Homo sapiens: one gene and its partners. The protein of the gene in region 3 interacts with the protein of the main gene of each other region in a pairwise test. Each region holds a gene or a part of one and is shown on either strand. Other genes may lie near its edges.

What was found.
Region 1: the proteins of PTCHD1 (region 3) and STMN2 interact in a two-hybrid assay, tested with the Homo sapiens proteins (one study listed by BioGRID and IntAct).
Region 2: the proteins of PTCHD1 (region 3) and ZNF350 interact in a two-hybrid assay, tested with the Homo sapiens proteins (one study listed by BioGRID and IntAct).
Region 4: the proteins of PTCHD1 (region 3) and TADA1 interact in a two-hybrid assay, tested with the Homo sapiens proteins (one study listed by BioGRID and IntAct).

What each region holds. Positions count from the first base shown.
Region 1 is NC_000008.11:79,606,473-79,614,135, reverse strand, and holds the start of STMN2 (stathmin-2), read right to left. Parts: upstream 3,020-7,663; 5' UTR 2,941-3,019; coding exon 2,922-2,940; intron 1-2,921. UniProt on the Homo sapiens protein: Regulator of microtubule stability. When phosphorylated by MAPK8, stabilizes microtubules and consequently controls neurite length in cortical neurons.
Region 2 is NC_000019.10:51,983,803-51,991,416, forward strand, and holds the start of ZNF350 (zinc finger protein 350), read right to left. Parts: upstream 3,039-7,614; 5' UTR 2,968-3,038; intron 947-2,967; exon of another isoform or gene 904-946; intron 193-903; exon of another isoform or gene 1-192. UniProt on the Homo sapiens protein: Transcriptional repressor. Binds to a specific sequence, 5'-GGGxxxCAGxxxTTT-3', within GADD45 intron 3.
Region 3 is NC_000023.11:23,400,849-23,404,874, reverse strand, and holds the end of PTCHD1 (patched domain-containing protein 1), read right to left. Parts: 3' UTR 501-4,026; downstream 1-500. UniProt on the Homo sapiens protein: Required for the development and function of the thalamic reticular nucleus (TRN), a part of the thalamus that is critical for thalamocortical transmission, generation of sleep rhythms, sensorimotor processing and attention. Can bind cholesterol in vitro.
Region 4 is NC_000001.11:166,873,254-166,880,861, forward strand, and holds the start of TADA1 (transcriptional adapter 1), read right to left. Parts: upstream 3,012-7,608; 5' UTR 2,981-3,011; coding exon 2,907-2,980; intron 1-2,906. UniProt on the Homo sapiens protein: Probably involved in transcriptional regulation.

The DNA of each region.
Region 1 (7,663 bases), on a different chromosome or scaffold from region 3:
GTGGGATTTTTATTTGGATGGCGGCTACCATTTCACGATCCATGTATCTGTGTAGGATTGAGGCTGTATCAAGAATCAGCAGTTGGAAGAACAGTTTCAGGGGAAAAAACTTAAAATTTTGTGCATAAACTATATTTATATATTTATAGATATAACCTTATGTTGAAGATCATCTCAATTATATATGTGTATTCTCACCCATTGCAGCCACAAACAATTCTTTGCAGAGAATTTTCCAGCAATCGTTGGCACACAAACCCTGCTCTTAGCAAGCACTTGCACATGTATCTTAGCCACATGAACATACATAATCCTGGCAGGAAGCAAAAATATATTTGCTTTATAACTTAAAATGAACAACTGGAGACAAATTTACCTTTTTGTGGGGGAAAGGGATGAGGGCAATTAGGAGGAAGCAAAGCGAACGCAACAAGGGTTAATCCTTAACCAAGAGCAATCCACGTCCCTTTTGAACAAATGAGAACAAACAAGGCTACTGAATCATTAAATAATAACAACGATTTGAAATGATAATAATACTGATGATGACGATGAGTTTGCAGCCACTAGCCTGCAGCGGAAACCTTTCTGAGGGGTGCAGAAAGCGAGGCGAGATCGCCCCCACCACCCATTCTCAGAACCTTTCTGGACGTGCGAGTGAACTGCGAATTGTGGAAAGCGGGGGTAGCTCAGGACACTGCGCAGAAACCGGTCTCCCCGGCTGCACCGCGGGGGCGAGCGCCCAACTCCGGGGAGGGGAGCGCAGGGCGCGGCGCGGGGCTCTGCAGGGCTGGCTGCGCTCCACACACCCAGTCGCCACGTGCGCCCCCACCCGGCCAGCGGTAGGCGGCTCTGGGCCTCAGCTGGGAGGGGTGGGGCCGAGCCGCGCCCCGCTGGAGGAGCGAGGGTCTCCCTTAGAGAAGCCCCTCGCGGGGTCTCCATTCTGGAAAATCATAGAGAACAGAGGGTGGGCGGGGGGCTTGGGCTGGGGGAAAAAAAGCCCCGAGCTCCGCGGACCGTGGGTGGGCGAGAAGAGACAGCCCTCCCTGAATCCCTGGGAAGGGGGTCACCTCTGCGGTCTCGCGCCCGGGCTGGGTGGGGCCGCGCCTTTGTGTGGCCGGGCGGGGCTCGAGCCAGCTTTTCTGCAGAGCCACCCGCTTGGCTGGGAGGGGCTCGGTGCTGGGGCTGAGAGCCACGCCGGGGGTCTGCGCACATCAAGGGGTGCTCGGGCCGTTGTGGACTGCGGGGCTGAAAAAAGAGGTTCCAGGACTGCATACAGCTCAACTGCCCCTCCCATATTCCTCTTCCCCGCCAGTCTCGGAGCCTGAGGTCTCCCCGGCTCCGCGGGGAGGGTAGGGCAGGGCGGAGCCGCGCAGATGGAGTCCTTTCGGCAGCTTTCCCTGTCTCCGCATCCTGCAACCAAGTCCCGGGGGACACGTGCTTCCAGCTGCCACAGGACCCCAGGCCCCACCCTGCCTTTTCACCCCGGGGCCACTGAGCGCCAGAACCGTGGGCACTCAAGGCACAAGACCAATTGCGGATGAAGGCCCTGAATCCAGAATCTTTTCCGGTCATCCTGTGTCTCCACTGTCTTGTCTCTCTGAGCTTATGAAATTGCCGATATTTGGCACTGTCTGACCCACAAAACGGAAATTTCGCGTGGCTTAACTTAAGACTTTGACCTCTTTTGCTTTATATACGATTTCATGTCATCTCTATTATTATACATACACATGTCTAGGTTCTAGAAGCTTTTCCCGCAAACGATCAAAGGTCTTCAAAGAACCCTTTATCTGTGTCTATGTCTAAACACTCTATGTAATTTGCTTCCGAAAAGAAAAATGTTAACCCACTTTTCCCATCTCTCTTAAAAGCAGAACAATGAGGCCAGCGTGGGGAGGGCGGGGTCAGTGGTCAGGTCTCTCTTGGAAGCCGCGGCGGGGAGTCGGGAGCGGGGAGCGCGGGGCGTGGCGCCGCTGTCCCCGCAGGGTTGGGCTCCTGGGTGTCACGCTGCGCTCCCCACCCGACCCCCTTTCGAATGAAGATGCAGCACCGGGCGGGGGGGCGGGGCTGCGCGGTTCCGCACTGGGTGGGGCTGTCCGCATTGTGCGCCCAGCGCTGCAGGTGCCTCCCCCCGGGACCGCTGGTCCGCACACAAAGAAACCCCACCCCAGCGCCTTCGAAGCCGCTGTCCCTCCACCCCTCCCTGCCGCGCGCTTCCCCGCCCCTGCAGCTGCCCACCCGCGCCCTCCACGCCCTCCGCGACTTCCTCTCTCCTTCCCCTCCCTTGCCCTAAAACAAAGGAGCGGAGGTCCTACCCCCACCCTGTCCCCCGCCGTCTTACCTCCCTGCACCGCACCCCAGGACTAGCGGTTTCTTCGACGAGACAATACCGTAAAATGTGCCCAGTTCTCTCCATCCCCTCCCCCCGTCTCCACCCATCTTTCAAACAGCGGGATGGGACCGCTTTGACTTTGCAATTTTCTTTTTCCTTTCTCCCACCTTCCCTTTACCCCTTTCCTATTTTCTTCTTAAACTAGAGAAGAAATAAAAAAAAAAAAGGTCGTTATAAAGCACTTTCCAAAATGTCCCTTAAGCCCATTTAAGGCAAACAGTTAAGGTAGCTTCCTCCCCTCACGATTGAGTCCTAATTTTAAATATGGAAACAGAATAAATTCTCTACCCATAGGAGGGCAACTTACCCGCTTCTACCTTTTAAAAGAAATTCTTCGCTTTAGATTTCCATAGACCTCTTCTCTGCCCTCCCACCTCCCCCAGAACTGCCCTGTCCTTCCTGGTCCTGTGTTACCATTAACATCTTTTTCTTTATAAAATATCTCTGAATGCTTCTAGAGCTCAAGAGAGGAGGTGAGAGGTGGGCTCCAGGTAGAGCCGACGGAGAACGAGGCGCAGTGCCTTACCCATTGCTGTTTTAGCCATTGTAGGGATGTGCAGACGCTGAGCAGTGGCGAAGGCAAAGGGTCCGGCTACAGCAGCGGAGAGAGCGAGAGAGAAGACTGAATAAGGCACTGAGTCTGCAGAGTGGGACCGTGCTAGAGAAAGAGCAAGAGGCAGGAGCCCATGAATAATTATCACTCAGAAGCTCAAGCAGATTGGCTCCCAAGGTCCCCTGACATGACTCCCGCAGAGTCAGAATCTCCAAGCATTAAATATTGATCGGCCAATGGTGCTGGAGTACAAAGTACCAGAATGCAGTTTGAAATGGAAATCAGTCCTTCCCTGTCGGCTCCCCCCATTTTGGGGGCCTGATAGTACAGTCCAAGTAGAGTGGAGCTTTAAGCCCTGAAGCTTCCTAGGAGCTAAGAACTGGGCTGTGCCTACCTGGGAGCCAGGAGGCTTGACTTTGCTCATACATGTGCCATTGCACAATTCAATGGAAAAGGATTCAGAAGCTTGAGAAGTCCTCACTATATGCAGGCTGTTGGAAAATTCTGTTTAAATACTGTGTTTTCACTTTTTCATATTTTCTTTCACCTTTGGCTCTGTCCTTGGTTCTAGTCTTTCAGGGCTACCCTATGTCTGGCTATGGTGGCAGCTCAGAGCAGACTTGCATTATTGTCCTTTATCTTTTAGCACAGCTGGACTTAGGCGTCTCTAAACTCTTGAAGGTCTCTCAGGAGAGGGAAGCATGGTGTTTTCTTCCCTTGGCACAGAGGAAGGGGCTACCTGGTTGCTTGGGAATAGGGATGGTAATAATGGTCCACCTGGGGACATGGGGGAAGAGGAAGAAAGTTTAACCTCTGGTGCCTGTGTCCTGTCCATTTGTTAACACGGCAGAAAACAGGTTGGCTGGCTGGTTTGGGCATTAAGGAAACCACAGGTGAATGCCATGTTGCCCTGAAGGTGTAGGATTAAGTGGGTCAAAATTTTAGTAACCTTTCCAGGGCTCTAAGGAGAATGCTTTACATGGAAAACTTAGAAGAGATGAAAGGTGTGGTCTGGGTCATTATTTTTCTGAGATCCAGAGAGACTACGTTTATGTAGGCCCAGGAAGGCTGTGTTCAAGTTTCGGATTGAGCAATGTCGTATGTGAGGATCTTTGAGACTAGTTGCAAAAAATGACTTTCATTACAAACAAGGCATTTATTAGTTCCTCCTTCTCACTTAATGGATGCCAGTCATTCATTTGTTCTCTTTCACTTGACTTAAATATGTATTGAGCATTTACCATGTGCACAGCTCTGAAAATGGTGAGAAAAAGTTTAGGAGTTGCTGCATGAAGTTTTTAATTACTGCTAATTTAACTCTTCTGTAACTTTATTGAGCCAGTCTAATTCCATGCAGAAACTGGTTTTAATATTAGAAAAATAGGCAAAGAATTGCTAATTCCGACGTTTGAAAGCCAAAAGAAGAGCACATTGTTGCAATCATGAACAGGTATGAAACCCTGGCAAGTTTTTAATTTCAGAAAAATGAATGTATTTTTTTCTTCTTATTAAAATAGGTTTTTAGCAGCTTTCTGTCCAATCACATTTCAACTTTTTTTTCTATCCTCAGGAACAATACACAGTTTCAAATACATAAAACCAATTGAAAATAGCAGGGCACTCTCCTTGGTGCTGAAATGAATTTCTTCACCTCCTATTAACTTGTAAGACATTTTAACCTCATGGACATTTTGCTGACTGATAGGATGCTACTGGAACTGGAACAGTTTTGACCTGCTGAATCATGGGGAAAATAAAAGATGAAGTGGAGATCAATAAAATTATTTCTTGAACAGGAAGATTAGAAATTATATTTCCTATCTTTGAACAGGTCTGTGACTATGACACAGCAAGAGAGCAATATGGAAGTTGGCAGGGTCTGGAAATAAATAACCATTTTCTCTCTATATATAGGCATTTCCCACTTTAAATGTAACAGTTAATCACCTCTCACTGGAGTAGTTATCACTCATGAGGTGAAGGATCTTCAGCATGTCTGTGTGACTAATATTTTCAAAGTATTTCTCTTCTCCCCACCACACCCTTTCCCCTCAGGCTGTGTGTCATCTCTACACATTCTTCAGCTTCCTTGGAGAACAAGGGCCCTAAGTCATGGCATTAGTTTCTTTAACAACTGCAGTTGGCTGCTGAATGAAATCGATTGCACTTTTGATGACTATGAGGAAAACAAAACACTCATTCTACTGCCCTAAGGGTCACATATGTGACTCTTTTCTATTTCCGATTTTCTAGGTGTTAGCCACCTAACTTCAGTTATGAATGATTTTTAAATAATGTCAAACAGGGAAGAGAGTAGGTCAATATGATTTACCATAGAATAAAAAGATAGTAGGCAAAATTGTCAATCAGCTAAGAAAACACAAATAAATTCAAAGGGCTGTGCCATTATCAAATTGTTTTTTGTTTTCTTTTATCATTACAATATGGTATCATGCATATTCACATGGGAAAGTAAGGGTGAAATATGAACAGAAAAATTATTTCATATTCAATATGTTATTCACTTATTCATTTGTTCAGCTAATTTATTCAACAAATATTTATTTGATGATGTTTCAGGCTTTTGTGATGCCAGCCAAGCTTCTCCTTAATGTCTGAAAAATAGAAAGTGAAGGAAAATATAACACCCATCTCTTTAAGAAAATATTAATTTGGGGGAGTGAATATGATCTTGTGTATTGTGGATCACACTTTGTTGCAAAAATTTGAAAAAATAACCCAAACTGGCACTAATAATAAAAGTGCATTTGCTGTTTCGTCTAACCATATAGATAGAGTTGGCCCTAGAGGTCTGGAGGTGAGATCAGCTTTTCCTGAAGGAAATGGTTTTGATGGGAATGGGTGGACACTCAAAGAATAGGTACTACATTTGCACAGTATAAACTAAGGACAACCAGTATCTGTCGTGTGGGGATTTGGGTAGACTGAAGGGTTATCATGTATGAACTGTCTAAGCCATCATGGATATATAGTAATTTTAAGTACTATGACTATATTTAGTGTTTCCAATACATTTAAACCTTTGAAAGGTAGAGAATGAATAGTGTATATCTTTATACCCTTCCTAGTGGTTGGTTTCATGATTCACGTGGTAGACAGTTAAAAACAATTTGTGAAATAATAAATAATACAGTGTTGAAAATGATTCAAAATGGATGAATCCAGTGAGACCATATTGACACTTCTAACCTCCTTTGCTTAGCTTGTGTTGGGAGCAGGTATTAGGCTGTTTACCAGTGTTTATTTATTTATATCCTGCCCTATTCCCAAAGAACCTAAATGAGTAGAGCTCACAATAGTAGATGGCCCTTGTTAATTTTTGTTATCTTTAACAGCCAGCAGTAAGCTGGAGCTGTGGAAATCACAGACTTGCTAACAGAAATTTTAATTATTGTGGGTTATAGCCTAGTGTGTATTATCTCTGTGAGGAGGCCTGAGGTGTTGATTTCTTTCCAAACCAGAGAGAAGCAGTTGCTTTGGAGGATTAGCTGATGCCATCTAACACAGTCATATGATTTTCTGCTATTCATAATCAAGTGCCTGGGAAAGAATCCTAAAGTAATTATTAAAAGTTAGTGAGATAAGAGAAACATTGTTAAGGTCAAATTAATTGTTTTGATCTGACCTCAGGTGATTACAAAAGAAATGTGAGAGATAAAATCCATTGAATTTTTTTAGATGTTTAGAAATTTAGGATATAAAGTAGTTATAGCTGAAGATATTTAGAGATGCATCTAAAATAATCACACATGAAAAAATAGTTGACTTTTTAACATTTTGATTATTTTGCCATGTTTAAATTCTTATAGATTAATGAAAAATAAAAAGGATCATGTGTCCTTTAATAGAACTGTCTAATATGGTTTATTCAAAAGGAAAGTCATTCCAAGGAGGGAGAGTTGGTGTTCTTTATTAGCAGTGAGCTCTGTATTGCTCAGGAATTTGCCAGTGTGTTAGAGTTATTTCTGAAGTGTGGAACAAACACACTTCATTGTTTTCTTCTTAAATTAGTTATTTAAAAATAAACAATGATTAGTTAATTATTATTATTTTTTCTCTACCTAGGGTTTTCTTTATGTCCAAATGGGACTTGTATGTATTAATAATTAGTATAATTCACCCTGAAGCAAAATGACTTATTGAAATTAGTAAATCCTATTGATAGTTTTATAATTGAACTTTTCTGGAAATAAACTTGTTCTAATCATAAGAAAGGCTTGATATAAATTTAATGAGCTGAATCTTTACATTAAATTGATAATGTTGAAAACTACTCGCTATCTTGGCAGCAATTACTGTAACTAACTTTTTCCTTCTCTCCATGAGTTGATTTACAGCTTGAGTCCAGGGAGAACATTAGTTGGACACCATTGAAGCTGGGAAGTTGGTTCCCCTTGAGATTTCACTCAGCATCTTAGTTTACAAACCAAACAGTGGAGACAACACTGAAGTGCCTGGAAGAGAAATCTGGGAGAAGTGTGACTCACTCTGTTTATCCCACAAGCCTCAATTTATTTTATTTTTTAAACAGAACCCCTACTGTGAGCATTGCATTATACATACAATAACAGTTGCCTAAGAACCTTATTTTTCTAAATCAAGCTGAAAAGAGGAGGAGGAGGATTTAGGGAAGAGAAAAGCAAAAGCATTTTAGTATACTGCCTTCCTGGGAGATTTTCTCATTAGTCATTTAT
Region 2 (7,614 bases), on a different chromosome or scaffold from region 3:
TGGGTCCCCCATATGCTGAACACCAGTCCCCTGGGCCCACTTTTCTTCCTCTGTACTTTCTCTCTGTGTCTGATTTCTTTTCTCAGTCTCTCATTTCCACCTTGCAAAAAATACCCACAGGTGTGGAGGGGCAGGCCCCCTTCAGGCAGGTGGACCACTTGAGCCAGAGTTGGAGACCAGCCTGGCCATCATGGTGAAACCCCATCTCTACTAAAAATACAAAAATTAGCCAGGCAAGGTGGCACCTGCTGGTAATTCCAGCTACTCGGGAGGCCGTGGCACAAGAATCACTTGAGCCCAGAAGGCAGAGGTTGCAGTTGAGCCAAGCACGCCACTACACTCCAGCCTGGGCGACGAGAGCAAGACTCTATCTAAAAAAATTAAAAAAAAAAAAAAAAATCAATAAATGGTACTGGGGATGGGGACAGAAAGTTAAAACCCCCCTCACAACATACACAAAAACCATTTTAGAATCAACTGTCAATTTCAATGGTAGAAACATATCAATAAAGCTTTAAAGAACATTAATATAGGAGAATCTCTCAATGTTATTAGGGTATGGCCAGATATTTTAAAGAGGCCACATAAAGCACCCTATAAAGCAAACTATATCCTGCTAGGGGAACTGTAAGTGGTACAACCACTTTAGAAAACAGTTTGACATCTATTTAGACGGAGTTTATACACACTCTATGAAGCAGCAATTTTCCTCCGAGGTGCACATCTAGATATACATCTCTGCCTCCCCCATATGAGAGCACATATGAACCAAAAGACATTTACACAAATTTTCACACATGCATTATTCTTAATAATACAAGCTTTAGGTAATACAAATGTAATTAATAATAGAAAAAACTGCTATATTTTACATAATGGAATGTGATAGAAAACCTATTATACCTTTGGTCCAGCCTGCAAGAATGCTTTTTACATTTTTGAAAGACTGTAAAACAAAAAGCAAATTAGCATATGCAAGAGACCATATGTAGCCTGCAAGCCCTAAAATATTTACTGTAAATTCGCCTGATCCTTGTCATTGAGCAAAGAAAATATACTCAGATGCAACAGGAAAGACCCTCACCAATAATGAGCAAAAGAAGGCTGACACAAAAAAAGAGTGATGTACAATTCCACTGATATACAGAGTTTAAAATAGGCAAAACTGTATTAACTACAATGATAAATAATGATTAATTATATAAAGAAAAGCCTAAAATACTTTTCGGTGTGAGAATGGAAAAAGACTCACAGAACACCACTGGTGTGCTGACCATATTCTATTTCTTGACCTGGGCAATGACTGCTTATACATATATTGCCTCCATGATAATTAAATTGTACATTTAAAATATATAAATGTAGAAAAATTAACAAAGTAAAGGAAGAGATCAACCATACCAAACAGTTTACCTCCAGGAAAGGTGTTAACTCCAGACAACACAACGGGTGAATTTTACAGGTGGGTAATAAAACAAGAACGTCCACTAACACCCTATTTTCCTACTTTATACTGGAAAGTTGAGCCAATGCATTAAGATAAGAATGAATTATAAGCATTACAAAGTAAGACAGAAAATTAATGTTATTTTCAGGCGATATCATCACGAACATGGAAAAAGAGATTCAAGAAATTACATATTTAAAAAAGAAAATGCTCCCTCAGAAACTCCCAGGCAGATTTTCACATACATAGTTGGCTAGAATTGCACCATACGCCTAAGCTCATTTCCATGTCAAACCTATCACTAGCAATGGCAATTGGAACCAGCAAGATTGGCTAAGACCAACAAGGCCTTACTAAGAAACTGGGATTTGGGTCGCCTTGCCACAGGGATGAATACTTCACGAAATGGAGATTCTGTTAAGAAAGTGTGAATATAAGGCGGGCAAGCAACACTCACTATATATTAAGAAGTGAAGGCCGGGCGCGGTGGCTCACGCCTGTAATCCCAGCACTTTGGAAAGCCAAGGTGGGCGGATCACCTGAGGTCAGGAGTTCGAGACCAACCTGCCCAACGTGGTAAAACCCTGTCTCTACTAAAAATACAAAAACTAGCCGGGCGTGGTGGCGTGGGCCTGTAGTCCCAGCTACTCAGGAGGCTGAGGCAGGAGAATCGCTTGAACCCGGGAGGCGGAGATTGCAGTGAGCCGAGATCGCGCCATTGCACTCCAGTCTGGGAGACAAAAGTGAAACTCCGTCTCAAAAAATAAAAAAAATAAATAAAAAATAAAAGAAGTGAATGCAGAGGTTGGCAACATTTTCGATTTTGCCGGCCACGAGGTCTCTGTCACAACAACTCAACCGCTGCCTTTGCAGCCATAGACAATATATAATCGGAGGGTATGACTGAACTTGACCCCCCGATCTGTAAATAGCCACCCCAAGGATCAGAAGAGTAGATATATGGTTTCGAACTAATGCTGGGGGCTGTGTCGCCTTTTGCCCCAGTAACCGAGGTTCGAACCTCAACCCAGGACCCAGGGCTCCAAAGTCTCGAAAGCTTCAGCCCTCACAAGCCTTTGTACCACAGACACTGGCCCCATGCCTCTTACTCATCCGAACCACGGACCAGACACTCTACAGCGATGGACATCCTCCCAGACTCCAACATCACTGAGTTCCAAATTAAATCCTGAACCCGAAGCAGACGCCGCATCGATCCTAATCGCCACCTCCATCCTTTACAAGCAGAGTGATCCATACCTTGACAGTTAGGACACGGCCGTTGATCACTACAGACCCTTAGTCACTGTACTCACACCAAAGGCACGCGGACCACAGACAGGGGGATCACAGACTCCCACCAGGTACCTCCCAAATGCCTATACCCCGGCGCTCCCCAGTCTTCCTGCCAAAAACTATGTGGTCCAGGGTACACCACGTCCTCAGATCTCCCAAACCTTCCACTGAGACAAAACCTGAACTAGGACAAAAAACTTTCAGGGACAAAACCACACACTGACCTCTATTTTCTCCAGATACACAAGAAGGGCCTCAACGTTACACTTCCGTAAACTGCTCCTACTTCTGGAGTCCTCGCACGGGTTTATGGTCCACCTACGGCGGCCGAGGAGAACCTAAAATGTTTAAAAGAGCAAGGACAAGCGCATTTACGGCATTTCCTACTCTGTAAAATGGCCGCGCCCATAGCCGTGGCTCCTGACGGCAGCCATGTTTGAAAATTGGACGCACAGAAGGCAGTGGCAGGTTTTTGAGCCAGGAGCCAGGGAAGAAGAGAAGTCACTGAAATCGCCTCGTTTCCTGGCACTTAAAGTCTTGCGAAAGGGGGCAGATTTTCAGAGACTCAGGCTTTATCAGGCAAATATGGGGCAAGCTAAATTGCCTTTAGCGCTTTTCCATCCACTTTGTTAAATTTAAAAAAAAAGGTTTTGAAAAAGACAAGTAACAGTGCAGCCAGGTGTAGGTATCCCAGAGAATGAATTGGAAATGGAAAAGGTAACAGATCAGGTAGAAAGGGAAAAGGCAACACATCAGGTAGGCAGACACCCACGGGAAAGCGTCTGGCGAAAATTAGCTTGCAGGAAGCGGTTTTTAAGAACAGAAAAATAGCAGGTATTCGGGGGGGCGGGTGGTGAAGAAAGAAAAAAATTATAATTTTTTTTGAGACGGAGTCTTGCTCTGTCGCCAGGCTGGAGTGCAGTGGCGAGATCTGGGCTCACTGCAACCTCTGCCTCCCTGGTTCAAGCGATTCTCCTGCCTTAGCCTCCCAAGTAGCTGGGACTACAGGCACGCGCCACCACGCCCAGCTAATTTTTGTATTTTTAGTAGAGACTGGCTTTCACCATGTTGGCCAAGATGATCTCGACCTCCTGACCTCGTGATCTGCCTGTCTCGGCCTCCCAAAGTGCTGGGATTACAGGTGTGAGCCACCGCGCCTGGCCTCGAAAAAATGATTATTATTTACAAAAAAGAAGAAGAAGAAGGAGGAAGAGGAGGAGGAGAAGGAAGAGAAAAGAGGAGAAAAGAAGAGAAAAGAGGAGAGGAGAGGAGAGAAAAGAGATTTTGAGAATGAATTACGATGTGAGCCTGGCCACGACAGACTAAAGGAATTGGGCCTCCTAGAAAGGCCACTTTTAGTAAAGGTGCCAATGGGAAGAGCAGAGCCAGAATTGAGAGTATAAAAATATTGTTAAGAGTTTTTGACAAAAGTGCCAAGACAATTCAATAAGAATAGTCTTTTCAACAAGCGGCACTGGGATAATTGGATATCCACATCCAGAAAAATGAGTTAGGACCCTCAAACCATACACAAAAGTTAACTCAAAATAGATCATAGATCTAAGTTTAAGAGAAAGTATAAAACTTAGAGAAGGAAAAGGGAGATAATCCTCATGGACGTGAGTTAATTCTGAGAGGAGAGTAAAGGATGACCCACAAAACAAAATAAAATTAATAAAGTGGACTTGATTTTTTTTTAAGTTTGTGCTTCTAAACACAACATTTAAGAAAGTGAAGTGGGGCACGGTGGCTCACACCTGTAATCCCAGCACTTTGGGAGGCCGAGGCAGGCGGATCATCTGAGGTCAGGAGTTCCAGACCAGCCTGGCCAACAAAGCGAAACCAGTCTCTACTAAAAATACAAAAATTACCCGGACGCGGTGGCGCGCGCCTGTAATCCCAGCTACTCGGGAGCCTGAGGCAGGAGAATCGCTTGAATCCGGGAGGCGGAGGTTGCAGTAAGCCGAGATCGCGCCACTGCACCCCAGCCTGGGCGACAGAGCAAGACTCCTCGGTAAAGACACCACTTCGTCACCCTGAATTACTCTGATTTTTATGGGTACAATGAGAATAGTGGACCTAGGAAGAAAAAGTTTTTAAATAGAAACCTTCAGGACAGATTTGGACTTGAAAGACTGACAGGAAGTGTTTCCAGCATCCAGTTAGTCTCAAAGCAACCACTAACCTTCAACTGCACACCTGAAAGCCTCCAGCCTCATTACATTCTCAAACACAGACAAGCCCCGTCTTCCTCTAAATAAAATTGCCTTCAAATTCAATTTAAAACTTACCACAGAGGCACTCCTTTGACACTCCTCCCCCTAGACCTTTCATTCACGCCACTCCTCTTCCTAGCTCGGGCTTCTCTGTATCTGAGCCCCATATTAAATTGCAAATCTGAGCAAAAAACAGCATTCACTGAGACACACTTTCCCCAGTTTTCTATTACTGAGACTCATGAAAAGTGAACATATAGACCTCAAGCTCTGTCCGTGGGACCCTCAGTCATTAAACTCTTAAAACTAAGCCTTAACCTTTGACATCCCAAGGGTCTCTTTCTCACACCCATATTCCTCGGTGACTAAACTGAAATAAAACCCCTGAACACGGACATTCACATGCGTTTCCACTTCATGGTCGTCCCCACAAGCTCCCCATCCGGATTCACACGCAGCATCAGGCTTTCAAGGCTACAGTAGCAGCTGCCAAAGGCTGAACACGTATCAGAACCTACTTCCGATTCTGGAATTCTGGTGCTGCAACCCCATCCTTCGCCATCTCTAAGAACACCGAGAGACTGGGAGGCGGGCTTCCGGAGAGGGATATGGGACATTTCCCAAAGTCCAGGTTCTGGCTTTGAACATTTTATATGAGGTAACATAGCTGTTTTACCTCATAGAGCATATTATGTCATTTCTGATGGGAGTGACCGTAGATTATTAGTGGAGTGATAGACACGCACATCAACAGAATAGAGTCAAGAAATGGACACAAGAACAGGCAACTGATTTTTACAAATGTTCAAAATCAATTTAATGGAAAGAGGACAGTGTTTTCAATACTGTTGAATCAACTGGGCAACCATAGGCTGAACTTTAAATTAACCCTTACCCTATATACAAAGATGAATTTAAATGGATATTGCTAAATATTAAAAAGCAAAACTGGCTGGGCGTGGTGTCTCACGCCTGCAATCCCAGCACTTTGGGAGGCTGAGGTGGCCAGATCACGAGGTCAGGAGATCAAGACCATCTTGGCCAACATGGTGAAACCCCGTCTCTACTAAAAATACAAAAATTAGCTGAGCATGCCGGTGCGTGCCTGTAATCCTAGCTACTTGGGAGGCTGAGGCAGGAGAATCACCTAAACCCAGGAGGCGGAGGTTGCAGTGAGCCAAGATCATGCCATTGAACTCCAGCCTGGGTGAGAGAGTGAGACTCTGTCTCAAAAAAAAAAAAAAAAAAAAAAAAAAAAAGAAGCAAAACTACATTATTTTGTCAAAGGAAGTGGAAAAAGAATTATCAATTACAGTAAGGAAGGAATACTTAGATGTAATGCCAAAACCCCACAATCCATTAAAAAAAAAAAGGCTGGGTGCAATGGCTCACACCTGTAATCCCAGCACTTTGGGAGGCCATGGTGGACAGATCACCTGAGGTCAGGAGTTTGAGCCCAGTTTGGCCAACACGGTGAAACCCCAATCTCTACAAAAGTACAAAAATTAGTGGGACATGATGGCAGGTGCCTGTAATCCCAGCTACTCGGGAGGCTGAGGCAGAAGAATCACTTGAACCTGGGAGGCAGAGGTTGCAGTGAGCCGAGATCATGCCATTGCACTCCAGCCTGGGCAAGACAGCAAGATTCCATCTCAAAAAAAAAAGTTGGACTTCATCATAATTAAAATCTTTTTCTCTGAGAGAAAAAAAGAAAGAACCACATCTATGGAAAAATATTTGCAAGTGATATAAAACCTTTATCCAGCTGGATAAAATCTTTATCCAGCATTAATAAACAATGCTCTAAGCAGCGCACAGTGGCAAATGCCTGCAGTCCCAGCTACTCTGGAGGCTGGGACAGAAAACTTCTCAAGACCAGGAGTTTGAGACTGTAGTGTGCTATAATGGTGCCTGTGAATAGCCACTGCACTCCAGCCTGAGCAACATAGTGAGACCTTGTCTCTTAAAAAAAAAAAAAAAAAAGCCTTTAGGGAGGTGCAAATGGAAGGCCACATACAATTGGTATGTTTGTATTCATACCAATACACACACAATAGAATAGGTAAAATAAAACATTCCAGTCCTGCGTGGTGGCTCACGCCTGTAATCCCAGCACTTCAGGAGGCTGAGGCGGGTGGATCACAAGGTCAGGAGTTCGAGACCAGCCTGGCCAAGATGATGAAACCCCGTCACTACTAAAAATACAAAAATTAGCCAGGCGCAGTGGCAGGCACCTGTAATCCCAGCTACTCAGGAGGCTGAAGCAGGAGAATCACTTGAACCCCGGAGGCAGAGGGTGCAGCAAGCCAAGATCGTGCCACTGCACTCTAGCCTGGTCAACAGAGCAAGACTACATCTCAAAACAAAACAATACAAAACAAAAAAAATACTGACAGCATCAAGTGGAAGAATGTGGAGCAACTGAACCTTTCTATATATTGTTGGTGAGCAATGAAACACCACTCTGGTTAGTATCTTACAAAGGTAAACATACACTTACCTTATGACCCATGAATCATACTCTGCAGTAATTATCCTAGAGAAGTAAAAAATTGTGCTCACACAAAGCCTGTGTGTACAAATGTTCATAGGATTTTTATTTGTAACAGTAAGAAAAACCGGGAACAAAACTAATGTCCTTCAGTGGGTGAATAA
Region 3 (4,026 bases):
ACAAAACAAAACATAAACAACACTGAAGAACCCATACTAATTACTCTTAAAGAGAAATGAAATACCTGGACATAAAAAAGAAAGAAAAGGCCAGGCGCGGTGGCTCATACCTGTAATCCCAGCACTTTGGGAGACCGAGGCGGGTGAATCACTTGAGGTCAGGAGTTCAAAACCAGCCTGGTCAACATGGTGAAACCCCGTCTCTACTAACAATACAAAATTAGCTGGGCGTGGTGCACATCTGTAAATCCAGCTGCTTGGGAGGCTGAGGCAGGAGAATCGCTTGAACCCAGGAGACAGAGGTTGCAGTGAGCCAAGATCACGCCATTGCACCCCAGCCTGGGTGACAGAGTGAGACTCTGTCCCCCCCCCCCAAAAAAATCAAACTGGAGATATTCCCCTGGCCCACCGACATTTGACTCTTTGTTGTGTGCTTAGTAGAGGATTAGAAATAAACCCGAAAAAGTGAAAGCAAAAAGAGAAATATGTGAGATGATAGATATGTTAATTAGCTTGATTTAATCATTCCACAATGCATACATATATCAAAACATCACATTGTATCCCATAAATATATACAATTTTTATGTCAATTAAAAATAAATGAATAAAAAAGAAAAGGTGAAAGCAATACATTTGAAATCTCCTTTACATTCGAAATTTGATATCAGTATTGAAAACAGGATGCTTCATTGGAAGATGGGATTTTAATATGAAAAGATAGTCAACTAAGGACTCCATGTATTTGGCATGAGCCATTTCCCAGGTGACTTGGGGGCTTCTACATTGTATAAACTCGATGTGCAAGCATGAAAGATCGCCCTCTGGTGAAAGCTGGTCAGATGGAGAGGAACGGTGGAATTGCCAATCATCAGTGGGATGGTTTTCCCTGCTGATTTTGTTTCTGTGTAGGTGTGGGATGATTTAAATGCATATTTTAGGCATTAGAGAAACTCAAGTAGTACAAAATACCGGATTTTTTTTTTCCTGAAAGAGTTGGCCGTTTTTTATTACCTTGATTTTTTAAACTATCTTTAAAAGGGAAAAATACTGTACATATTTGCCTCAAATGTAACAAGTTTAGTCATATTTTTATAGATATTAAGAAATGCAGGGGTCTGGGGTGGCATACACAGCCTCTTCAGATAAAACATTTCTGTTTATATCCACGAACCATTCCCCTGTAGATACTGCAAATAAGCAGTAGAAACATCTAGGCTTGTTAATGTTCAGAAGGGCCTTGCTATGATGATGTAGAGGGTACCAAAAAAGATCTGTGTGTCTCTTGACTTTCGGTAAAAATTAGAGTTTATTAATGCCCCTTGCTGCAAAGTATTACAGCTCTTTGTGGGAAATTGTTCTGGGTACATTTTTGATTAAATTCCACCCTGAGCACGTTCTGCCTTTCCTGGAGAAAAGTGATGTGACTCACATTTTTTAAAGCTTTAGGTTTGACTATTATTTTTTTCTAGTAGGGTTTTATGCTTATCTGTCTCAAAACTGACCAAGCTGAACTCATTATGTGCTCTAGCATTTGGATACTTTTTCCTAGTTTGAAAATAGTTTATTATGACCAGAATCACCCACTTGCCTAAGTGTGAAGAAACCCAACTAAAATACTGGGAAACACAACATTAACTATGGGGTCTTTTTGGAGGAACAGATGATAAGGTTTCTGAATACTGAATTAGTGGTTACTTTGACAAGCTGTGGTCTTACGATCTATTGCCATGGAAGCAACTTAAAAATGTATTGTGATTTAGCCCAAAACTTTACAATGTAATATGCAATTTCAGGAACTTCTTTCACTAGCAATGACAATAAGAGAGGGGCCATGTTTAAATGTTTAAACTATTTTATGTCTAGGGTGAGGATCTTTTCCAACATTACTAAATATTCAACATAGCTTCTCTTCTTTTTTGTTTTCTCACCTACTACAATTGGACTGTTAAAGCAACATTGAACAGTTATCACTATTTTGTCATTAATAATTATTGGCAGAGATTATCTTTGCTGTTAAAAATACTAAGAGCATTGGCTATGTAGACATATTTTTTACAACTTTGAAACCTTTGTACATTTAGAGGAATGAGAGAAGTTTGATCAAGAAATTACTAAAACCAAGCTGAAATTTCTTTTGTTTGGGCCTAGCATTCAATAATTCAATAATTTTGCTCAAGGGTTCTAAGCTGGATTGTAAACCACAACAAATAGTGGGTGGTTGTATTATGGGATCATAAACAATAGGAAGAGAACTTGAGTGTATTCAAAGCTGCTGAAGAGGAATTATAGGTCAATAATTCAAAAGAGAATATGGGGTCTCTTTATTCAGAAAAACATAGATTCAGGCTCTGTATCTTTATCTTATAGACAATCCAGAACAATTTACATTATCCTCAGCTCATATTCAGTCATTCCTCACATATTTGATTGTTTTCAGCTTCCCAGTAATTACTTTTTCCCTGTTATACTCTATGCCAAGGTTTTTTGGGGGAACTGCACTAGGGTTCCTCTTAATGTCCCCTCCCATCCACTCTGTGTGTGTGTGTGTGAGAGAGAGAGAGAGAGACAGAGAGTTTGGTATAAGCTTCTAAGCTTCTAGTCTTGGATAGTTCTTCTGTTGCTTGTGTGACTGTTCTTCTAAATGGATGTTGCCTATCACCAGGCCTCCATGCATGGCACTTCCTTTCCTTGAGGTTGATGAAATGCACCGGTTTTCCCGTCAAACTGATGCTAGGGATCAATGGAAACTGCCCACTTCTTCCTAAGACGAGGAGTTGGCAATTTGGAGGGATCACCCCATATATTCTTCCTCACCACTTCTTTCCCCCTTCTCTGGATCACCAAGCAAATATTCTAAATAAATTTCCACAATTCCATACCTTGGAAGAGATCTCTGTCGTTTTGGGTCTATGCTATTCTTCTTGCTTATGACTTGGAAAATTCCAACAAATGCAATTTTCCCACTGTGAAACTGTTAGCAATTTTTAAATTGCAAGGCACATTCACTTTTCCAGGTTTCTTTTCTTTAAAGCTTACTATTTGGCTGCTCTTAGCTGTGCTCGTGCATAAGAAACATATAGAAGGGGAAGATAACATTTTTTCAATGGTATCCTGCAGACATCCGAAGCCTTTGGCCTGCCAAACCTTACAGAACTATAGGGCTGGGCCTGCCAAGGCATTTTAATGTGCCTCAAATGTGTCAGGCATATTGTAAAAGGTGGTGTGCATGTGTATGTGTGCATGCACATCTGTGATATGTGTGTATGTAAGCATGTGCATATGTACAGGTATATGTTTCTATGTTTTATAGTTGTGTTGTACACACATATATGCATGTGTACATTTATGTGTGTCAATGTGTATGTGTGTGTGTGAAGCAGAGCCAACGGGTCATTACCAGTTTGCCCAGTCACCCACAGTCCTGGGAGGCATCGTGGCAACTGCCTTGGTGATTCTGGATCAGTGCGTAAAGGCAATTTTGACAGGATGGTAATTTAAAGAATAAATATCTGAAAGGCTGAGCTAAACATGTTCAAGATTCATCCTAGAAAATTAAGGAAATTGTTTTGTCAAAGAGAACGTTATTAGTTTTCCTGAGCATGAGCCTGGAATGAGTAATGGAAATGGGCTGGGTCTTTGCCATTTTGCAGGAATTAGACAAAGCACTTTGTTGATCCTAATGAACAAAGCCCTTGCCGGGCACGGTGGCTCACGCCTGTAATCCCAGCACTTTGGGAGGCCGAGGCGGGTGGATCACGAGGTTAGGAGATCGAGACTATCATGGGTAACACGGTGAAACCCCATCTCTACTAAACACACACACACACACACACACACACACACACACAATTAGCCGGGCGCGGTGGCGGGCACCTGTAGTCCCAGCTACTCAGGAGGCTGAGGCAGGAGAATGTCGTGAACCTGGGAGGTGGAGCTTGCAGTGAGCTGAGATGGCGCCACTGCACTCCAGCCTGGGTGACAGAGTGAGACTCCATCTCAAAAAAAAACAAACAAACAAACAAA
Region 4 (7,608 bases), on a different chromosome or scaffold from region 3:
AAGTGAGACTCTCTCTCAAAATAAATAAATAAATGCATAAATAAATAACATATGATCAAATCCTCAAAAGAAATCAGGCACCTATTTGAACATGGCATTCTACTGGCTACTATACAAAGTGAGTTGCCTAGCAAAGCCCATGTCTTCCTGGAAGCAGCTTGGGCACACAACCCAACCAGTCAGACATGAAGGATGTTCAGACCACTGGATAAATAGCAAATAACTCATATCCAGCCTCCGTGCATAACCCTGTATGTTTTGCCTACCACCGAGGACCACACTTAAATAGGTTGTGCAAACCAAAGCAAACTGCTCATGGAGGAAATATAAGAAATGACTGTACAGTACAAGAGTATTACTGACTATTTAACCCAGAGGTACTTTTTAAGGAGAAGGGAAAAGAACAATGAGAGAATGGAAAAACAAATTTAGAACTATACGTTACCATTAACTGTTTCTGGCATAAAAATCTCTTTTGATTGCATTTTAGTGGGGATTCACACTCCAGATGCACCAAATTTAGCTTCAGCATCAGTATTTGACCAACATCAGACAGTCGGCTTTGGCCTTTAAAAACTAAATAAGGAATGCTAACTTCAAAAACACTTTTGGCAGCCCTGAACCTGTAACTGATGAGTATGGGATGACAGAGGTCACCATTGCATCTAATCAGGGTTAAAGGCAATCATACACAAGCCAGGTCCTTCAGATTTATTTTGGTATGTAAACGTTTGCTTTCAAATATTTGTAAGCATTCTAGATGGAACAGAGTGAAATGCCCCTTATGTGCTTAAAAATGTAAATTTTGGCTGGGCGCGGTGGCTCACGTCGGTAATCCCAGCACTTTGGGAGGCCAAGGCGGGTGGCTCACGAGGTCAGGAGTTCAAGACCAGCCTGGCCAAGATGGTGAAACCCCATCTCTACTAAAAATACAAAAATTAGCCGGGCGTGGTGGCAGGTGCCTGTAATCCCAGCTACTCAGGAGGCTGAGGCAGAGAAGTGCTTGAACCCAGGAGGTGGAGGCTGCAGTGAGCGGAGATCATGCCACTGCACCCCAGCCTGGACGACAGAGCAAGACTCCATCTCAAAAAAAAAAAAGGTAAATTTTATCAGTCGGTATTACAAAAGTAAAAAGCTACAGTAATTAGGGTGAAAGCTGTCAATTTTACCTATTAAAATAAGTAAGAATATTTAATTCAATAAGCACAGTGAACATCAATATCGAAAGACAATTTTCGGTGGTACACTATAGTCGGGTGTGGTGGCTCATGCCTGTAATCCCAGAACTTTGGGAGGCCAATGCGGGAGGACTGCTTGAGGCCAGGATTTGAGATCAGCCTGGGCAACACAGCAAGACTTTGTCTCTGAAAAAAAAAACTTTAGCCAGGATTAGCGGGGCGTGCCTACAGTCCCAGTTATAGGCTCACAGCAGGGGAGGATCTCTTGAGCTCAGGAGATCAAGGTTGCTGTGAACTGTGTGATCAGGCCACTGTACTTCGGCCTCTGCCACAGAGCAAGACCCCAACCCCCAAACACAAAGTGAAACATATCTCTGGGCGTAAATAAATGTTCACCAAAAATTAAATAATTATGCTAAAATAACAGTTTAGATTTTAATTTTAATCTTTTTATAGTTTCCATTATTATCTTGTTAGGATGAAAAGTAGACTGTCAACTCTGCCACCCCAAAATTTCACATGAAGGAAAAACTCCAAAATTCATGTATGACATCCAACCTAAGTAATTTCAATCCAGTAATAATAAAGAACAGAGAAGGATGAAAAGAAAGTATTGGAGAAAAATTAAGTATTCCCAAATTGCTCCTCCACCAACATCATTTAAAAGTATGCATCCACTGAGTAATGCAAATGTGTAGAATACCAGAGAAGCCATCTAGCAGCAACAACACAGGCACTGTAATTTTAAACGTTTATATTTGCTTCCTATATTTTTGAAAAATAAAGTTGTAATAACAACGTTTTGAAAATTTCCAAACTCTTCCTTGTATCCCAGAGGTTCCTTTTTTGCTCTTTGGCTTTGGCTTTGACTGGATACTGATTTTACCCTTGGCCATTCTGCACCTAACCTGACTGTGCACTAGGTCCCCTGCCATAACCTGGATGAAGGTCTGGCTGAGCGTCTCTGGGATCCTTTACAGCCCCTCTAATGCATCAGTCGGGAATCAAAAGCGTGGGTCCCAACTCTGACAGTGACTTTTGAAGAGTTACTTGTCCGCACTAGGTCTCAGTCTTCTCATCTGTCAAATGGGAATAACAACTGTACCTATCTCACATCTGTTGTAAGGATTAGATAATATATTTAGAGAGCTTAAAATGTTTAAAATGTCCGCTACTGCTATCATCACTATAATTGTAGTGTTCAATGACTGTGATTTCACCAGAGGGTCCGTCTGCCTTACGAAATTGCTGTCAAAAGAGCTTACCAATAATCCGTAGCAGATCACACCAGCTCAACAGGCCTCCACCTCCAGGAAGCCCTCCAGGGGCGGGCCGCCCTGCGCTATGCCCTCTGGCTGGACGCGTAGGGCTCCGGCTCACTCCGCCCAAGTCAGCCTCCCGCATCCCGCACGCCCGCGCTGGGGCCCGCACCTGCTCAGCAGGCCCTTGGGTGCGAAGTGCGCTTCTCCCGCCCCACCCAGGGCAGACAGTCCCGAGCAACGGCGCCCGCCGATGTCTCCCGGGCGCCCAGGAGGCCCGGTCTCTCCAGGGCGGTGAGTTCAGGTGGCCCGCCCCGCCCCGGCCGGAGAAACCCCGAAGCCCCGCCGCCGCGGACTCCAGGCTGCACAGGCCCCCGGGCGACGCGGGCGTCTCCGGGGCGGGCTGGCAGCCCGAGGCCAGGAGAGCACCCGCGTGTTGGCCTGGACGCTGTGCTAGGGCAGCTCTTACTGTTTCACGTTGTCCCCCAGGGCCTCGCTTAAGTTCTTCTTGGCCGCCTCCAGCTCGCTCACAAAGGTCGCCATTGCTCCGCGTGTCTCAGCCCGACCGCAGACCGCCCGGCCACCGCGATCAACAACCCAAAAACCAACTCGGCGGAAGGCCTTGGCTCTGGAAGCTAAGCCGGCCGCCGTCAGTCCCGCCCCCAATCTCTCAGAAGTCGTTTGTTTGGTTTTCGGCTCCGCCCGCCTTTTCGCAGGGAAGGTGCCCGGCCAAACTCTGCTCTCTTCCTCCCGCCCCTCGAGTCACGTGATCCGCTTCACCTTGTCGCGCGCCCATCCTAAACCCGCGCGCCCCGCCTCGGCTGCAACGTTGCTGACAGGCTGGCGTGTCCCAAGCTCTTTCATTCTGTTACCGCTGGGGCAATTCCGAATTCAGCCTGCTGTTCTTCTGCCTGGAGGAGTACCTTACCCCTCCATTTAAAAAAGTAAATGCAGTATCAGTTTTACTCTTTCCTTGCCTTATTTTTCCCCGAGCACTAACCGTCTCATATGACATTTAGTTGATTTATCTTGTAAATGTTATGGCTCGAGGACAGGAGTTGTGTTTTATTCACTGTTACCCGCAATTCTCTAGAGCAGCGCCTGGCACATAGTGGATGCTTAATAAGTATTTGAGTAAATGAGGTAACTATGTAAAATTTGGAAAATACACAGAAAGATAAAGATAAAAAGAAGGAAAAAGTGTTTTACCACTCCCGGACAAACACTTAACTGAGAGAGATTTCTCCTTCACTTCGCACACTCCCATGACTTAAAATATTCTATGTTCAATTTTGCACGTTTTTAAACTTAAGGATTTATCTGTAGTATTACATTGTCTTTAGAATAATTTTAATGACAACATATTAAATACCCCCACAGATAGAAGGTACACAACTTGTTTCCCAATTGTTAGACTGTGTCCATTTCTTCTCTATTAAAAAGCAATACTGTAATATTGCTTTTGAAGCATATAGCATAATGAAGCAAAACTTCTTTATGCATAAAACTTTTCCTCCTTTAGGATTATTACTTTAGCATAGAGTCCCACACATAGAATTACTGGATCAAATGATGGGAATATTTATAAATGCCTTGGTGTATATTGTCAAATTGCCTCCCAAAGTTTTTTAAATAATCCTAGATAGCTTTTAGATCTTGTGTAATTTCTCCAAAGATGTCCCCTTAAGTTCATTCATTCAACTTCCTCACTGCCCAACCTAAACCCACAAGCCCTGTCCTGGCTGCAATGCCAGCCGGGCACCTTCTCTTCACTTGAATTCATACAGTGAGCTCCTATTATGTGTCTGGAACTCTTTGAGTACTGGAGATACACAGGTGAAAGGAGATACAAAGGTCAGGCAAAGTCTTCCTCTCTGTGTCAAAACTCTGGGTAAGTTTTGACACATTTAAAAAATATCCACTTAAGTTTTCCATGGCTCCCCACGCTCTGCTGAACAAATTCCAGACTCCAGCATTCAAATGTTCTCATGATCTGAACTCACCCTACCTGTGTACCTCACACACCACTGGCCTTCCCACATAACCCCACACTTGGACTCAGCATTCTAGTTAACTTGACTTTAACAAATCACATGGCTCTTCCCCTTTACGCATATCTCCTCTCTGCTGGTTTTGAGACTTATGGTTGGCTACCTCCATTTTTTTTGAATCAGGTTCAAACATATATATGAATCTATTCAAGGATCAAGTCAACAGGACTAGGAAAGGCTACAGATAGTTGGGTACATCTTCCAGGAAGAATCCCTGTTTCTCATTTGTCTCTAGCCACGAAGAAAGATAGGCCTCAAAGATTTTCTTTTTGAACCCATGCTTGACAATACTCATACGTCTAGCTCAATTAAATATCCCTTTCTCTCTCAGCACTTATACACCTATTAACACTAATTTTACTACAGTTTTTCAGTTAAATGTCCATTTAAACTGTAATGTTAGACAATATAATATACATAAATGGACATCTGACCAAACAATTTAATATTGAGAGGTGAAGCCGCCTGGGCTTCTGGGCTGGGTGGGGACTTGGAGAACTTTTCTGACTAAAGGATTGTAAACGCACCAATCAGCGCTCTGTGTCTAGCTAAAGGTTTGTAAACGCACCAATCAGCACTCTGTAAAAACACACCAATCAGCGTTCTGTGTCTAGCTAAAGGTTTGTAAACGCACCAGTCAGCACTCTGTAAAAACACACCAATCAGCATTCTGTGTCTAGCTAAAGGTTTGTAAACGCACCAGTCAGCACTCTGTAAAAACGCACCAATCAGCGCTCTGTGTCTAGCTAAAGGTTTGTAAACGCACCAGTCAGCACTCTGTAAAAACGCACCAATCAGCGCTCTGTGTCTAGCTAAAGGTTTGTAAACGCACCAGTCAGCACTCTGTAAAAACGCACCAATCAGCGCTCTGTGTCTAGCTAAAGGTTTGTAAACACACCAGTCAGCACTCTGTAAAAACGAACCAATCAGCGCTCTGTGTCTAGCTAAAGGTTTGTAAATGCACCAATCAGCACTCTGTAAAATGGACCAATCAGGATGTGGGCGGGGCCAAATAAGGGAATAAAAGCTGGGCACCTGAGCCAGCAGCGGGAATACAGTCTGGTGGCCTTCCATGCTGTGGGTGCTGTGTTCTTTCGCTCTTCATGATAAATCTTGCTGCTGCTCACTCTTTGGGTCTGCACTACCTTTACGAGCTGTAACACTCACTGTGAAGGTCTGCAGCTTTACTCCTGAAGTTAGCGAGACCACGAACCCACTGGAAGGAAGAAACTCAGGACACATATGAACATCTGAAGGAACAAACTCCGGACACACCATCTTTAAGAACTGTAACACTCACCGCGAGGGTCCACAGCTTCATCTTGAAGTCAGCGAGACCAAGAACCCACTGGAAGGAACCAATGCCGGACACAATATTATAAATGAATACCAAGCCAGGGGTGATGGCACATGCCTGTAGTCCCACCTACTGGGGAGGCTGAAGTGAGAGGATTTCTTGGGCCCAGGAGTTCAAGTCTGCAGTGAGCTATGAGAGCACCACTGCACTCCAGCTTAGGCAACAGAGTGAGACCTCAACTTTAAAAAACAAATTTTTTTGAAAGGAAATGAATATTAAAACCACTTGTAATTTGGAAGGTTACTTTAAAGGAACTAATTCTAAATCTTTTATTATAGCAATATTTGTACAATGCATAGTGCAACTAATAAATAGCTTCAGAGAATGTGTGTCAAAATGCTTTATAAAGAGCAAGAAACTTGACAAATGTTTAGTCTAGTTTTTTTTTTTTTTTTTTTTTTTTTTTTTTGGATCATCCAGCTGGTTACAGGCTGGTTTGAGAGTAACTAGTAGAGTCAACTCAATAAGTTGCTGAGAACAGACATCTGAGGATCCAACCTTACCTGACATCTAAGTATTTATGAATATTTCTCCAAGTATATGGATTATGTGTGTAAATATGTGTATGTATTCTCCACTTATATAAAATAAAATTTCCTTTATATTATCCATATCTTTTTCCATTTCATTAGATAGATAACTGAAGGTTGGTGGTATTATTCATATACACTGCCTGTTTCTATACAACTTTTTTCCTTCATAAATATAATTCTGTACAAACAAAGGAAAACCCTCTAAAAAGTGTATTCTCATAGCTAGTTTACTTACATATTTATAAGAGCCTGGCCTGTACCTCCTTAATTTTTCCCATTCCTATTCTGTATTTTATTAAGCACTGGTCTTTTAACATTAGGATTTCTTTTTTTTATTGTGGTTAGAACACATAATACGTGATCTTCCCTTTTAACAATTTTTTTTTTTTTTGAGACAGAGTCTTGCTCTGTCACCCAAGCTGGAGTGCAATGGCATGATCTCGGCTCACTACAACCTCTGCCTCCTGGGTTCAAGAGATTCTCCTGCCTCAGCCTCCCGAGTAGCTGAGATTACAGGCACGGACCACCACGCCGCGCTAATTTTTTTTGTATTTTCAGTAGAGATGGGGTTTCACCGTATTAGCCAGGATGGTCTTGATCTCCTGACCTCATGATCTGCCCACCTCAGCCTCCCAAAGTGCTGGGATTACAGGCGTGAGCCACCACACAGAGCCCACCTTTTAACAAATTTTTAAGTGCACAATACCTTATTATTGACTACAGGTACAGTGTTGCACAGCAGATCTCTAGAGTCTATTCATGTTGCTTGACTAAAAGTTTATGATTAGTGACTCCTCATTTCCCCTCTCACCAGTTTCTGTTAACCATCATCCCACTCTTTGAGTCTATAAATTTGACTATTTTAGATACCCATGTAAGTGGAGTCATGCAGCAGTATTTGTCTTTCTGAGACTAGCTTATTTCATTTAGCATAATGTTCTCAAGGTTCATCCATGTTGTCACATATTGCAGAATTTCCTTCCTTTTTAAGGCTAATAGTATTCCATTGTGTATACACACACACACACCTCCCACATTTTCTTTATCCATTCATCTGTCAATGAACATTTTGGTTATTTCCACATCTTGGCTATTGGGAATAGTGCTGCAATGAACATAGGAATGCTAATATTTCTTTGAGATCCTAATTTTAATTCTTTTTGATAAATACCTAGAAGTGGGATTGCTAGATCATATGGTAATTCTATTTTTAATTTTTTGAGGAACCTC